Linked DNA regions of Homo sapiens: region 2 is linked to region 1. Evidence: fine-mapped expression QTL. Tissue or cell type: whole blood. Region 1 holds a variant in brackets; the other region holds the start of a gene. All regions are shown on one strand. Distances are from middle to middle.

Region 1 (8,000 bases):
TCCCAGAATGGTAGATCCACTGACAGCTTCCACTGTGTACCTGGAAAAGCCACAGACTCTCAATGCCAGCCCGTAAAAGCAAACAGGATGGGGGCCGTATCCTGCAAAGCCACAAGGGCAAAGCTGCCCAAGGACATGGGAGCCCACGTCTTTCATATGTGACCTGGATGTGAGACATGGAGTCAAAGGAGATCATTTTGGAACTTTAAGGTTTAATGACTGCCCTATTGGATTTCTACATGGGGCCTGTAGTGCCTTCGTTTTGGCCAATTTCTCCCAAGTGGAACAGGTGTATTTACCCAATGCCTGTACCCCCATTGTATCTAGGAAGTAACTAACTTGCTTTTGATTTTGCAGGCTCACAGGCAGAAGGGACTTGTCTTGTCTCAGATGAGACTTTGGACTGTGGACTTTGAGTTAATGATGAAATGAGTTAAGACTTTGGAGTACTGTTGGGAAGGCACGATTGGTTTTGAAATACGAGAATAGGAGCTCTGGGAGGGGCCAGAGGCAGAATGATATAATTTGGCTGTGTCCTCACTCAAATCTCATCTTGAATTGTAGCTCCCATAATTCCCACATGTCATGGGAGGGACTTGGTGGGAGGTAATTTAATCATGTGGGGCAGTTACTCTCATGCTATTCTCATGATAGTGAGTTCTCATGAGATCTGATGGTTGTATAAAGTGTAATTCCCCTGCACACGCTCTCTTGCCTGCCACCATGTAAGATGTGCCTTTGCTCCTCCTTCACCTTCTGCCATGATTATGAAGCCTCCTCAGCCATGTGGAACTGTGAGTCCATTAATCTTCTTTTTCTTTATAAATTACCCAGGCCCAGGTATTTCTTCATAGCAGTATGAAAATGAACTAATACAGTAGTTCTATCAAATTTCACAGCCTATAGCAGTGGGCTTCAGAATCTGAGAATTTACCTAAAAGATTTATATATAATTAAAGAGATCAATGCAAAGCTGCTTGGCTGAAGTGCTAGAGGACAGAGCCCTGTCTACTCAGTCTCACCTTCATTCTAAGTCCCATGAAAGCAGGAACGGCATCTGCCTCTTTCATTAGGAACAGCCTGTGCTTGGCACTTAGCAAACACTCAAGAAACATTTATGAAAGAATAAACAGACTATAAATTAATGGAGAAAAGAATGAAAGTCATTGACACATAGTAAATTATCCAGTCTAGAATTGTTGTTTCAAGCTTTTTGTTATGCCTACTTTCAACAGCAACTTCAAAGTAGATTTAATGAAAAGAATCAGCACAAAAAAATTCAGGAAAAAAATCTAAATTAAATTCAACAAGCCTTGTCAAATGACTATACTATAAATTGTAGGGCCCACAAAAATATGTAAGAAAAGGTCTCTCTTTTCCAGGAGTTTCCCATTCAGTGAGAAAGACTTACATTCAATTAGTAAGGTCAATAAAAGACTGTGGTAAATGTTACCAAGGAGAAATAAAGGTCTATGGAGGCTCTGAAAAAAAACAAGAAATTCCCACAGGGAAGAATTCGGGGAGACTTCCTGAAGGAGACACAATCTGAGGTGGCCCCTGAAGAATATGTAGAATTTCAAAAGTTGAATCTAAAAAAAGTACATTTCTGGTAAGGAAAAGAAAATGAGTAAATAAAGGAAAACATCAGGCCTCTTGTAGAGAGACAGAGAAATACTAATATACAGGTAAAAGGTAGATATCAAATAGTTTTAAAAGCTATAATTCAACACATAAAACAAGATCCTCTAGGAGTGCAGGGAATAATACACTTCTTTTCACATTAAGGTTAGCATACCTATGTGCTATAATCAAATCAAGTGAATACTTACAAGGTCATTCATATTAGTTTGGCTAGCTGGGTTAATTTCTTCCAAAAATTCCAAGACATAAAATGTGTATCTATCCATAAGATGGACTCCAATTGCAGGATCAGGTTGATGCTATGGAAAGGGGGAAAAAAAGTATTTCTAACAGTATCATTATAACAAAATGTTTTAAATGTAACCAAAATTTCCTTCTAATGTATTAGTCTAAGAAAGAACAGATACATTCATAAAGCATTTAATTGGTTTCAGAAATAGCTGCACATTCCAAAGACACAGTTTACAAATGGGGAAAATGCACATACCGAGAGTGAATCTTCTCCCACTTGACTACTAGCTAGAGCCATTATGTTAGGAGAATAAAATCGTTCATACATGGATGCTCCTTGGCAAGTATCAATAATAAACAGTAGCTCATTGTAGCTGAAAGAAAAATGATAACATCTTTGACAAGGATCATGCTGTAAATCATACACTAATATTTCTACAATACTTTTGTAAGATGTTTAAATCATATCTTAGTCATTTCATTAGCTAAAAGTTTTCAGCAGAATTCCCAACAGAAATTTGACCTCAGAAAAGTTAAAGGTATAAATTTGTCCAAGGAAACCACAGCGAGTCTTATTGTGCCCAAGGTGGCTGCCCCAGCTCTTTTCCCTCTTCCTTGTCTATGCCATATAATTCAGAATCTAAATGAATATTCCATTCAACAAGCACTTATTTGGCACCCATGCTGTCATAGAAATTGAGCTAGGTTCAGAAAAAGAAGTATGACTTAGTAACTATACTCAAAGAGCATAAACTCTAAGTGGAACACAGACAAACATACAACTACATTGGAACGTGATGAGTACTATAAATATATATTGAGTGCCTACAATGTGCCTGATATTATGCTGGAGATGCAATAGTCCCTGCCCTCATATAGCCTAGAGTCTAACAAAATCAAAGTGTTGAATGAACACTGAGAAAGGACTAAGGAGGAACTGCAAAGAAAAGCAGATCAGAGAAAGGTGATGCCCAATACGGACAATGAGGGATGTTATTTTGTTTTACAGAGAAAAGAAGATGACATTCCAGCAGAGAGAAAAGCACATAATGTAAAAAAGTATAAGTGCTTGGGAACAGATCTGTGTAGCTAGGATTTAAAGTAAATTTGGGAGAATGGAGGGAAATTGGTTTCAAAAAGGTAGAATAGGTTCAATTTGTAAAGGATACCATATGAAGTCTGGATCTTATCCTATAAGTTTGGAGAAACCATGAAAGGTTTTTGTTTTTGTTGTTGTTTTAATGAAAGAATAATATAATCAGGTATCCATTGCACAATAAGCTGGCTAGCTGGCAAAAGTTAAAGTAGAGAGGAGACATATTTTCTGGGAAGTTTTTCTCAGACACTGGGTCTAGGTAAACAGCTAACATGGAACCTAGAAAACAAAGCATTGAATCTTGAACCACAGTATCATCGAAGAAAGTGACAGGAGACACAATTAATATGACACATTTGTTCTGTGGCAAAATATGTGGAGGCTCCTATGCATTAGAAACACCCAAAGTTAGGAGAGGTTGTGGAGTAAACAAGAGAGCAAGCTCTAGGACTGAACCATTTGGGCATGAATCCTAGCTGTGTCAAGTTTGGCAAGTTACTACTAGCTGTGTAAAGTTCCACAAGTTATTTAATCTTTCTGTGCCTCAGTTCACTCACTTGTAAAAAGGGAATAATAATAGTATCTACCCCATAGAGTTGTAAAATTAAATGAGACAATAGATGTAAAATACAGTATGCAGCCCCCAGTATGCATTCTATAACTGTAAGCTATGAATAAGACATAATCAGTGCCTAGTAAAAGCTTCCTCAACACTTCCACACATTGCTTATGCTTTTATTTTAACATTACAGTATTTATTTTGTAGCATCATTGTATACATATTTCTCTTTTCCATTAGATTGTAAACACTTTGAAGGCAGAATAAGCATCATATTCCACTTTCTGCCATAGGAATGGAAGATAGCCTATAAGTGTTTATTGAAAGTAATCAAGTTAAAAGTTTTTTCACTTACAGTCATATGCATGACAGCTTCCAACTAAAGAGATGCTTAGCAAGGGTTACTAACAATCATCCTTAATGTGAGTTGTTACAAATTTTATGCTAATCATAATTTCAGCGATTTTTTTTTCCATAGAAGAAATACGTCTATAACATTAGGGGCCAAAGAATGAGCTAGAAAGAATAGGTACAAGTTGAAAAATAAACAGATGTTCATAATCTCCATAATAATAGCTAACTTGGTTGGAGGGACACTTATTTCCTCTAAAAAAGATGCTAAATAACAAGAGATGGAATCTTAAAAGGTTAACTATTTCATGTTATAGAATAACTCTCAGTTTTTCTTTTAAAAACAACCCAGTTCAGAGGAAATAACAAATGTAAATTTAAAAGAGTCAAAGAAATTGTCAAAATAAGTTAAAAATCTTAAAAAATAAAAATTACAAATCTACGAACCATGTGAAAATTAGGTATGAATATAGCTTATGAAAAGAAGTAATTTGCTAATTACCGTCTTTTCTGCCACATTTGTTCAAAAGCATCCGCGAGTTCTATGTTGGTAATTTCTTCAGAATCTTGAAATTTTAAGAAACCATTTCCACCATGCCCTTGTATAAAGAGTAAAAAAGATCAATAGATTTTTTAATGCAAACTGCATATATCTAGATATATACATTTACTTCATTCATTACATTTTGACATCGCTTGTTATTTTATACTCTAAAATGTATACTATGAAAACAAACAAATTGAATTTTCTACTATGCCAATTAAAAAGAGAATGATAGACTATATAAAATAGCAGATATAATATCTTTAATAGGGTTTCTAATATTCAATTACAGAAACCTATATTTATGCTCTTCCACTGGCTCCATTATTATATCAGAAATGAGTTTCCATTCACAAAATGTTTCAAATACCAGGCAAACATTTTTGATGAGAAAGAAGCTGAAGACATTAGCTAGTCCCACATTTTTACTACAAGAGGTGGAGCAGAAGATTGTGCTATTTGTATGCAATCTAGAGGCAG[G/A]TTGCCTGGATTCAAATGGTAACTATGCCATGTTAGTTTAGGAAAATAATTTAATATTTCTATGCTTCAGTTTCCTCAGCCATAAAGTGAGAAATGTATCTGCAACACTATCATTAGCTTACTTATACAGTTGCTTTGCACAGGTTTTTAAAAGGTACTTTCAACTGGGCATGAAAGTAGAAAAAAAAAACTAGTCTCCTCACCTTCCTCTTGGATACATGCAGCCCTGCAGGCTTACAAGTGGTTAGTTGACTATGCCTTTGTGGGAGAAAAAAGTATCCCTCCCTTCCATTAGAATACAACCCTGTGGTAGGGCAGATCGCTTAGTAAGTGTAAGCACATACGAGATTTCAGTTCCCACTTAACACCCTGGCCAGATTCTTGGGTGCACTATACAACCCACACAACCACATACAGCAACCTTGAATATCGGCACCTAAGTCAATGCACTGCTGTGAGAATGAAATGAGTTAATAGCCACAATGATTTAGAATACTGCCTGACGTATACTATGCCTCCATAAATATTATTATCATATTATCATAATTATCAACGTTTTTATTCTCTTACAGACCCTGGCAACCTTCTACAAAAGATCAGGTAGTAAATATTTTTGGCTTGTGAGCCATATTGTCTCTAGCACAACTACTGAACTCTGCTGTGGTAGTATGGAAGCAGTCACAGAAACTGTGTAAACCAAATGGATGCAACTGTGTTTCAATAAAACTTCCAAAACAGGCAGCCAGTTCACAGGCCATAGTTTATCAAATCCTATCTTCAACTACTGGAATTTGTTCCAAGCCTGCAGTTACCCTGAAAGAGTTCCAACAGAATCAGGAAACAAACAAAAAATAATAATAATAAATCCTTTAGTTTAGTACATCAAATAAAGCTAAGCTACAAAAAACTGCACTTCATCTTGTTTGCCATAAAAGCTTGAAAATTCCTTGTAATTTTCAGATAAAGTAAAATAAAATTTTTCCTGGCTTCATTAACTCTATTGAGTTAATTTATAAAGTTTATAAATTAAGCCTTGAAAGTTATAAATAAATGCAACACGATAGAGAAAAGCCACTAAGTAGGGGTCATTAACTATGTTGACATGTGATATCTAAGAATCATTCTGCACCTGCTTTATCATCAGTTGAATGGAATGCCCTCCAAAAAATTTATAGAACATCTTTTGATTAACATCCATATTTACCGAATACTACTACAAGACAGGCAACTGGTGATAAAAAAAAAAAAAAGCAAGAAATATATAATCAATGACATCTTGGAATTCAAAATACAGTGAAGGCAACAGATACCCAAACAATAAAGTAATAGTAAGTTAAATGCTATGAAAGAAACTAAAAATTAACATGGGCATGCACAGAGGAAAGTCCAGACCAGCCAAGGAGAAGAGAAATATCTTTAGATAAGAAAAATGTAAGCTGTGTTATTCATACCAATTCTGAAGGAGAAAGCAGAAACTATTAATAATAACACTGGGACAACAGGTGTAAACTACAACTGTCCCAGGTAATTGGAAACATCAGTCACCCTAGACTTAGAAAGGAAGTCATGGAAGGGAGTGACTCCTGAGCTAAAACTAAAACCATATGGAATAATCAAGCAGGCAAAGTGGACTGAAAAGACGTCATAAGCAAATGCAAGAGCTTAAACAAATGTTTGAAGGACAGAACATTCAAGCTTGGAAGAGAATTAGAAAAAGTATTAAGAACTAAGACAAACTAAATAATATAGCTAAATCATTACATATATTATTATGTGTAATACATATGATAACTATATTATATTATGGTACACTTTATCTCCAATATTCCTCAAAGTATAATCAAAAGACTACTGTATCTCATATCTGAGGAGTATATCCACAATGCAATTTCATGAATCCCAACCCAGATGAAAATTAAGTAAGAATTCTAAAATAAGGCCTAAGTATCTACAGTTGGTAATCTTCATGTACAGCAAAATTTGAGATGGAAAACCATTATAAAGTTTTAAGCAGAAGAGGGACAGATTTGCAATTTCTATTAGACACTTTCACAGGATGATTAGCAGGAGAACAAAACTGAAGGATGCTGTAGCAGGATACCAAGCAAAAGGTGCTAAGTTTACCAAGTCAATAGTAAAAAAATATAGAGATAAGAAAATCAGGAACAGCACAAAATGTTATACTGTTTTCAGATATCATCTCAAATAGTTCTACATTATGGAAAATATAACTACATGAGAAACCATTTTAACCAAAAATCATTTCACGTGTTTAAATTTCTTTCCATTTGCCTTTCTTTTCAAAGAGTTTCAATATACTCTACTATAAAAACTCTAAATTATGAAATTACCTGTCATATAAATTAGAATATTGCTTCTGTCATCAGAAAGAAGACGTTTTGACCGAGGAGTACTAGGTGGGATCCTCCCAGTTAATACCCGTAAAAAATTCTCCACAGTTACCTAAGGGGGAAAAAACAAGAAAAATCAGATGAAATAAAACCTGGGAAATCTTGACAAATTACTTTTTACTTTCAAAAATGTTCATTGTTCTTTCTCCATATATTACTCAGCACCAACTGAAAATAAAACACCCAAAAATTATATAACTCAATTAAAATATATTCATTTAAACATATACCTCCAAGTAACTTTGTTACTATTTTTAAAAGTACTAAAAACTAACAAAGAAGGCAGGCCATGGTGGCTCATGCCTATCAACTCAGCACTTTGTGAGGCAAGGCAAGAGGACTGCTTGTGGGCAGGAGTTCAAGATCAGCCTAAGCAACATAGTGAGACCCCATTTCTATGCACACACACAAAAAATGTTTAAAATAGCCAGGTATGGTAACATGCTCCTGTAGTTCTAGCTACTCAGAAGGCTGAGGCAGAAGGCTCATTTGAGCCCAGGAGTTCACCACTGCACTCCAGCCTGGGCAAGAGAGCAAGACTATGTCTCTTAGAAAAAAACAAAAAACAAAAACAAGCAAAGTAAAACTACCTTGGAGAAAAATAAGTTCTGAATTTAAAACTTTAAATGCTATGTGAAGTGCTGCCTTTAAAAACTACTAAAAAGCTGCAAAATTATTTATCTGGCT
Region 2 (8,165 bases), 55 kb after region 1:
CAGTAAAGTTGCAAGACTCAAAAATCAATAGACAAAAATCAATGGCGTTTCTATATACCAATAATGAACTAGTTGAAGAAAAATCAGGAATGCAATCCCACTTACAATAACTACAGAAAAATTAAACACCTAGGAATAAATTTAACCAAGAAGTGAAAAATCTCTACAATGAAAACTACAAAATATTGATGGAAAATGAAGAGAACACAAAAAGATGAAAATGCTTCCATGCATTGAATTGGAAGAATAAATACTGTATTGTTAAAATGACCACATCACCTAAAGTGATCTACAGTTCAATGCAATCTCTATCAAAATACCAATGATATTCTTCACAGAAATAGAAAAGCAATCCTGAAATATTTGCAAACTATTCATCCAATAAGGGATTAACATCCAAAATATACAAGGAACTCAAACTTATGCTAACAGCAAAAAAAACCAAATAATCTAATTAAAAACGAGCAAAGGATCTGAATAGATATTTCTCAAAAGACATACAAATGGCCCACAAGTGTATGAAAAAATGCTCAATATCACTAATCACCAAGGATATGCAAACCAAAACCACAATGAGATATCATCTTAGTGCCTATTATCAAAAAGACAAAAAAATAACAAATGCTAGTTAAGATGTAGACAAAAGGGAATTGGGAATTCTTATACACTGCTGGTGGGAATGTAAATTAGTATAGCCACTATAGTGAACAGTATGGAAGCTCCTCAAAACACTCAAAATAAAACTACCATATGATCCAGCAATTCCACTACTGGGCATATATTCAAAGGAAAGGAAACCAGTAGGCCAAAGAGATATCTACACTCCATATTTATTGCAGCACTATTCACAATAACCAAGATATAGCATCAACCTGAGTGTCTATCAGTAGATGAATGGATAAAGCAAATGTGTGTGTGTGCGTGCACACACGTGTATATATAAAATGGAGTATTATTCATCCATAAAAAGAATAAAATCCTTTCATAAACAGGTACGTGGATGAACCTGGAGGAAATTACATTAAGTGAAATAAGTCAGGCACAGAAATTTAAATTTTTTAATTTCAATATCACCCAGATACGGACATTTTTAAAAACTTGATCTCATGGAAATAGAGTAGAATAGAGGCTGGGAAGAATAGGAAGGTGACGGGGGGAGTACAGAGAGACATTCGTTAACAGATACAAAATTACAGATAGCAGGAATAAGTTCTAGCCTTCTATAGCACTTTAGAGTAACTATAGTAAACAATAATTTATTATATTTTCTCAACTACCTAGAAATCTTTTCTAACATTTTGAATATTATCAACACAAAGAAATGATAAAGTTTTGAGGTGACAGATATGCTGATTACTCTGATTTGATCATTTCATATTGAATATGTCTGAAAATATCACACTATATACCCCATAAATATGCACAATTATTGTGCCAATTAAAATATACATATTACAAAAAGAGAGGCATCGCTTAAAGAGAATACAACATTGGTCAGAAAGTAAAGTATCTATTTCTGGAGATTTGTGAAATATCATTAACAGATTTTAGAGTGTACATGTAACCCTCAAGAATATCAATTTTCATTAGAATATCATTTGCTGTAGTAATACAAGTTAATTCTTACGTTAACTACCAATAGAGATGGAAAAAACTGATCTCTGAAATTACTATGGCTAGGATAAAATACCCTTAATTTAGCAAGGCAATAACATAGTATTTCACATTAAATGAAACTATAATGGGTTGTCTATTGTTAAGCATTGTTTCTGATAAATTGACATGATAAATATAGAATAATAACCTGAACAAAAAGTGTGTGTGTGGCATGTGTGTGTGGGGGGGTGTGTGTGTGTGTATTTTTCCCCCTCCAAACTCAACAGCTGCCTGGATGTTAAAGAAAGCAATGTGCTACAGTGGTTAAGCATTGATTTGGGAATTCAAAGACCTAAGCTAAAATTTAGGTCCTATCTCGCAACTGGCTGTGAAATTGCGGTAAGTCATTTAGCTCTTTAGACTTGACTATCCTCATGTCTCTAATGTGCCTTCCACCTCCAAAGTTCTTACTTCTTTCAGACCTTAGTGAAAAAATTTAGATGGCAAAACTTTTTTGTGGTTGTCTAGACAATACAGTCATTATAAAGTTATTCATTCTACATACAGTAAATGCAGCACCTATTATGTGCCAGATACCATTAATATATAGTGATACAAAAATCACTAAAAAGCATGCTGCTTTCTCTCAAGAATCCAGAGTTCAATAAAGAGGAGCATGCAAACACATTACACTATAATTATTACATTCATTAATTCATCACACTCATTGGGCAACATGCCAGTCACTGCCCTGAGTGCTCCAAATACAATGCTGGGCAAAAATAGCCATAGTACTGCCTTCAAATAGGTTACTATCTAATTGGATAGATATACATTTAACAGATAAGGAAAGACACACAATATAATAAGAGTACAACAGAGGGACCTGACCTGGTCAGGAAAGTTTTCCTAAAGAAGTGACTGTTGGGTTAAAATCCAAAAGATGAAGAAAAGAGGAAATACAATTCCAGACAGAGGGGAGACAGCTCTAATGTGAGAAAAAGCTTAAAGGTTTTGAGAAACTGAAAGAAAGTTAGCCTAACTAGAAGTTTGAAAGAGAAAGAAAAAATTTGAAGTGTAGTCAGGGCCCAAAAAATATGCAGGGTTTTTGTTTGTGGGTCATGGTGGAGAGTTTAGAGCAACATTAAGGTGATCTTTTGAGCAACATCAAGGTCCCTGGGTGACATGATTGGAACTGCATTTTTAAAAGTTACTCTGGCTTCAATTTGGAGAACAGATTGAAAGGAAAAAACAACGACTCAAGGCAAAACATTTAGGAAACTGTTGCTCCTATCTCTAAGTGAGATATGATGGAATAACAGTACAAACCATACACGGGTTATAGTAAATGAGTGCTGTATCAAGTGTACAAATTACAAGAGTAAAGGCAAAGGTAAGAGATAGGGAAACGTTCTACAGAGGTTATGCCTTTACTGTATCTTAGCACATGAACAGAGGAAACACAATGTATAAAATATTGTAATGTGAAAAAGCACAGCAATTATGTAACTACAAAAAACAGTAATAGTATCCAAGATGAAGCAGTCAAAGTTAGAATAAAGGAGGGAAACAGAACTTCTATTTACTCATATTTATGTTCTCTAAAAATTATGCTATATAAACATCAAATATATAAATTAACAGTAATTCATAAATATATATGAAGTTCATGCTCAATATCTTTTTTTAACTGATAGGGTGTGTATTCAAAAAGTTTGGAGTCCACTGGTCTAAGCTCAAGGTGCCCAGGTGGTGGGGAGAAGAGGTTCCAATATGGAACACTGGAAAAGTAGGCAAGCACCAGGTCATAACGTTTAGACTTTATTCTGTATGCAATTAATAAATATTTAAAAGATTTCATCAGAAGAATAACCTGATCAGGCTTACATTTCGTGTAGACGAATCTAGCACCAAACTCAGGGAGTATGGAGGCCTATGGAAAACAAGATAAAGTAATCGCAAGAGTCTAGACAAGAAGTGATCACAGCCTGAATTAAGTCAGTGGAACTGGAGAGGTGAGGGCAATTTTAAGAACTCAGATCACAAAATTTAGTGATAATTAGAATATGGGATAAAGAGATTAAGACTCTCAGGTTTCTAGCTTAGGAGCAGCACATCTGGTTGAGAAATGGAGGAGAAAAGGGGTGCTTAGTTTTTCAGTGTCTTTTTAAGAGGAGGTAGGATAAGCAGAAGATAAAACTTTGCACACGGATTTTCAAATGTCTCCTGACTATCCCGGATTCTTAGTCAGCTGGATATGCAGGCCTGAAAAAGATACCAGACATCTAGATTGTAGACCGGGACTGAGGAATCATCAGAGTATGGTGAATAGTAAAAGCATTATAGAGCACCAGAACATCCTGTGTCCACGTTTAAAAATGGGAAGCTGGAGGAGCCCAGGATAAAACTAAGCACCCCTTTTCTCTTCCATTTCTTAACCCAGACGTGTTGCCCCTAAGCCAGAAACTTGAGAGTTTTAATAAACACTTATATTTATCCCATGTTCTAATTATCACTAAATTCTATTATCTGGATTCTTAAAATTGCCCTCATCTCTCCAGTTCCGTCTGACTCCTATCAAAACAGAGGGCTGCAGTTGAGTAGTAGGAAAGCAGTTGCTGCACACTGACATTTCACGAGCCTCTTGCTCGTATTTCACCTAAGAACTGCACACATGTAGGAGCAAAGGATCAGGTCCTCCTCTGTCTCCGAGGGTTTGATTATTTCAATTCATCGTTTTAAAACGCTGAAACAGACCAACAGTGTCCTAACCCGTGCCCAGTGATACCCTCCTCAAACCCAGCCTGGGTCAGGGGCTGATTGACTCCAGGAGGCGTCCCTCAGCTACTGTGTATCGGACATCTGCTGGAGGGCTCACAGCCGGCCTCCCGGCTGTGGTCAAATGAGCCTGACTCCTACCTCGATATGACTAGCGGCCACGCTGCCGAAGGACAAGAGCAACACAGTTGCCAAGACAGTCGCAGCCCGGCTGAGGCTGTCGGTGACGGCCATGTTTACCGGCTTCAGACTTCCCGCACCTGAAGGGGCGGAGGCAGTGCCGTAAAGTAGCGCTGCGGGTTTTTGCGACACCATCCGCGCCTCTTCGAGGTGGCCCTCTGGTCCGGCTTTAGAACTCTGCGGTTTTGTGGAGCTCGAGAGTCCGGGACAAGGTAGACGCAGGATATTGACCTTTTTATTTTTAACTGCATTTTCAGTTTGGAGGTTGTAAAATAGGTATAACATTTAAGAAAAAAAATTGAAAGGTGAGTGGAGGGAAAACCCGTAACTCCTTAAACTTTAAAAACTTATTTCTCTGTTCCCTTATTTATTTTATTTATTTATTTATTTATTTATTTATTTATTTTGCCGAGTGCTGCCAATTCTTTGAAAATATGAAGCTGGATGTGGTGGGAAGAACAAGCGTTTTGGCACAAAAAGATGATTAATTGGATAAACTATAAATGGAAAATGTGGGTGGGCGCTGCAATTTAGAGGCTTGGGGTCTACTACCTGGTGAAAGGATTAACATGGGAAGCTAGTTACGTTTTTGTTTCTTGAGTATCTTCTGTAATTATGGAACTAAAGCCTATCTGGAAGAGACACAGCTGGTGTATATGTATGGTCCACCATTCTCTTTATTATGTGAGTTCAGTTTTAATTTATGCATTTCATCTAGTATGACATAAACGTTTCCACGCTGCTTCCTCACAATTTTAACATTTAATGGTGAGATAAAATTCCATCCATTATTGATGCCTCAGCCAAAGTAATTGTCCCTCTGCTGCACAATGCAAAGTTTTTAAGTTTTACTATGAAAATAATATTGTAAAGAGTATCTTTTGTGTGTTTGGCTTTTTAAATCTGTTGAATTATTTTGTTTGTATAATTTTCCTGAACTAGGAATTTGGGGTCAAAATATTCCAAAACATTTTAATAACTATAAATGATGTTGCTTTCCAAAATGAACAAGCTTACAGCACTATCAGAATACACAACACCAAACCATACCATTTTTTTTCCTTTAAATTCTTTGGTATGAAATGTTACCCCTAGGTAACTATACTTATAATTCTTTGGTTACTATCAAGATCTGATGTCTTTCTTGTGTTTCTAAACTATCTCTGTGTCCTCTGATGTAAATTCTTTGTTTATATATTTATGTTTTGCATATGAATTTGAATAATATATTTATAAATAAGTAACATTAGCCTTTGCCATATTTTATGCTATTGCTTTTCCCATTCTCTTGTCTCTCTTTTCCTTTTATTTGTTTCTTTTGCTATTGCACTTTGTGAGAGGTTTCATGCTATTTAGTCAAATTTAGGTTTTCCGTTACGTGAATCCTAGAAAGTAAATACACTGCCAGAATATCTTCCATGTATTCATTAATTCAACAGATATCTATTGGATGCTGATGATTATGAAACAAAGTAGCAAAGATAAGAAGCCATTTGCTCATTCTGCTCCTTTGCCAGCAATATTTCACAAAGCCCCTGACTCATTGACTGTGAGCAGCCTTGTGGAAGAATGCCTTGAAGACCATAAGCAGGATAGGGAATAGGTTTGCACATCTCTTGCCTGAATCACTGAATTTTTACAAAAGGTAAGTTTGGTGATCCTAGCCCTTGCCTCTTCCTGTACATAAGATAATGTCTGACAAGATTAATGATTATGCCTCAAATTCATGACCAGATGTAACTTCATACCCACACTTTGATGAGACTTTACTTGTATTAACCCATTTTCATACTGCTATGAAGAAATACCCAAGACTGCATAATTTCTAAAGAAAAAGGCTTAGTGGACTCACAGTTCCACATGGCTGGGGAAGCCTCACAATCATGGTAGAAGATGAAGAAGGAGCAAAGGCACATCTTACATGGCAGCAGGTGAGAGAGCATGTGCAGAGGAACTACCCTTTATAAAACCATCAGAGGCCAGGTGCAGTGGCTCACACCTGTAATCCTAGCACTTTGGGAGGCCGAGGCAGGCAGATCATCTGAGGTCAGGCATTCAAGACCAGCCTGGCCAACATGGCAAAACCCCATGTTTCAAAATTAGCTCAGTGTGGGGGCACATGCCTGTAATACCAGCTACTAGGGAGGCTGAGGCAGGAGAATCGCTTGAACCTGGGAGGCAGAGGTTGCAGTGAGCCAAGATCACGCTACTGTACTCCAGCCTGGGCAACAGAGCCAGACTTTGTCTCAAAAAATAAAATGAAATAAAATAAAAATAAATAAATAGATAGATAAATAAAACCATCAGAGCTCGTGAGAACTCACTACCATGACAACATGAGGGTAACTGATCCCATAATTAAATTACTTCCCATCAGGTCCCTCCCTTGACACTTGGGGATTATGGGAGCTACAATTCAAGATGAGATTTGGGTTGGGACACAGCCAAACCATATCATTCCACCCTGGCCCCTCCAAAATCTCCTGTCCTCACATTTCAAAAGCAATCATGCCTTACCAGCAGTCCCCCAAAGTCTTAACTCATTTCAGCATTAACTCAAAAGTCTACAGTCCAAAGTCTCATCTGAGACAAGGCAAGTCCCTTCTGCCTATGAGCTTGTAAAATCATAAGCAAGTTAAGTTACTTCCTAAATACAATGGGGGTACAAGCATTGGGTAAATACACCCATTCCAAATGGGAGAAATAGGCCAAAATGAAGGGACTACAGGGCCCATGCAAGTCCAAAATCCAGCAGGGCAGTCAAATCTTAAAGCTCCAAAATGATCTGCTTTGACTCCGTGTCTCACATCCAGTTCACGTTGATACAAGAGGTAGGTTGCCATGGTCTTGGGCAGCTCTGCCCCTGTGGCTTTGCAAGATACAGCCTCCTTCCCAGCTGCTTTAACAGGCTGGCATTGAGTGTCTCTGGCTTTCCCAGGCATATGCTGCAAGCTGTTGGTGGATCTACCATCCTGGGGTCTGGAGGATGGTGGCCCTCTTCTCACAGCTCCACTAGGCACTGCCCCAGTGGGGACTCTGTGTGGGGGATCCCACCCCACATTTCCCTTCTGCATTGCCCTTCTGCCTTAGCAGAGGTCGTGCATGAGGGCCCTGCCCCTGCAGCACACCTCTGCCTGAACATCCGGGTGTTTCCATACATCCTCTGAAATCTAGGCAGGGTTCCCAAACCTCAATTCTTGACTTCCGTGCACCCACAGTCCCAATATCACATGTGAGCAGCCTGAGACTGCACAAAGCAGCAAGGCCCTGGGCCCAGCCCATAAACCCATTTTTCCTCCTTGGCCTCCTGGCTTGTGATGAGAGGGACTTCCAGGAAGACCTCTTACATGCCCTGGAGACATTTTTCCCATTGTCGTGGTAATTAACATGTGGCTTCTTGTTACTTATGCAAATTTCTGCAGCAGGCTTGAATTTCTCCGCAAAAAATGGGTTTTTCTTTTCTATCACGTCATCAGGCTGCAAGTTTTCCTTTTATGCTCTGCTTCCTCTTGAACGCTTTGCCACTTAGAAATTTCTTCCCTCAGGTACCCTAAATCATCTCTCTAAAGTTCAAAGTTCCACAGATAACTAGGGCAGGGGCAAAATGCCAC

Evidence for each region. PIP is the estimated chance that this variant, and not a neighbour inherited with it, causes the effect.
Region 2: it holds the start of PIGK, and the variant in region 1 is fine-mapped to the expression of PIGK in whole blood (INTERVAL, PIP 0.94).

The regions. Positions count from the first base shown.
Region 1 is chr1:77,159,466-77,167,465 of GRCh38, forward strand. PIGK (phosphatidylinositol glycan anchor biosynthesis class K) reads right to left here. Exons shown (of 11, transcript NM_005482.3): 5 at 7,254-7,365; 6 at 4,381-4,477; 7 at 2,129-2,246; 8 at 1,830-1,940. Among named protein-coding and RNA genes, the nearest start is that of PIGK, 56 kb to the right of the region's middle. The variant G/A (reference allele first, on the strand shown) is at 4,903.
Region 2 is chr1:77,214,795-77,222,959 of GRCh38, forward strand. It overlaps PIGK (phosphatidylinositol glycan anchor biosynthesis class K), which reads right to left and starts at 4,636. Exons shown (of 11, transcript NM_005482.3): 1 at 4,516-4,636. The coding sequence starts at 4,608. LOC105378808 (a long non-coding RNA gene) reads left to right here and starts at 4,726. Exons shown (of 3, transcript XR_001738109.2): 1 at 4,726-4,859; 2 at 5,994-6,199. RefSeq lists an enhancer at 4,320-4,429.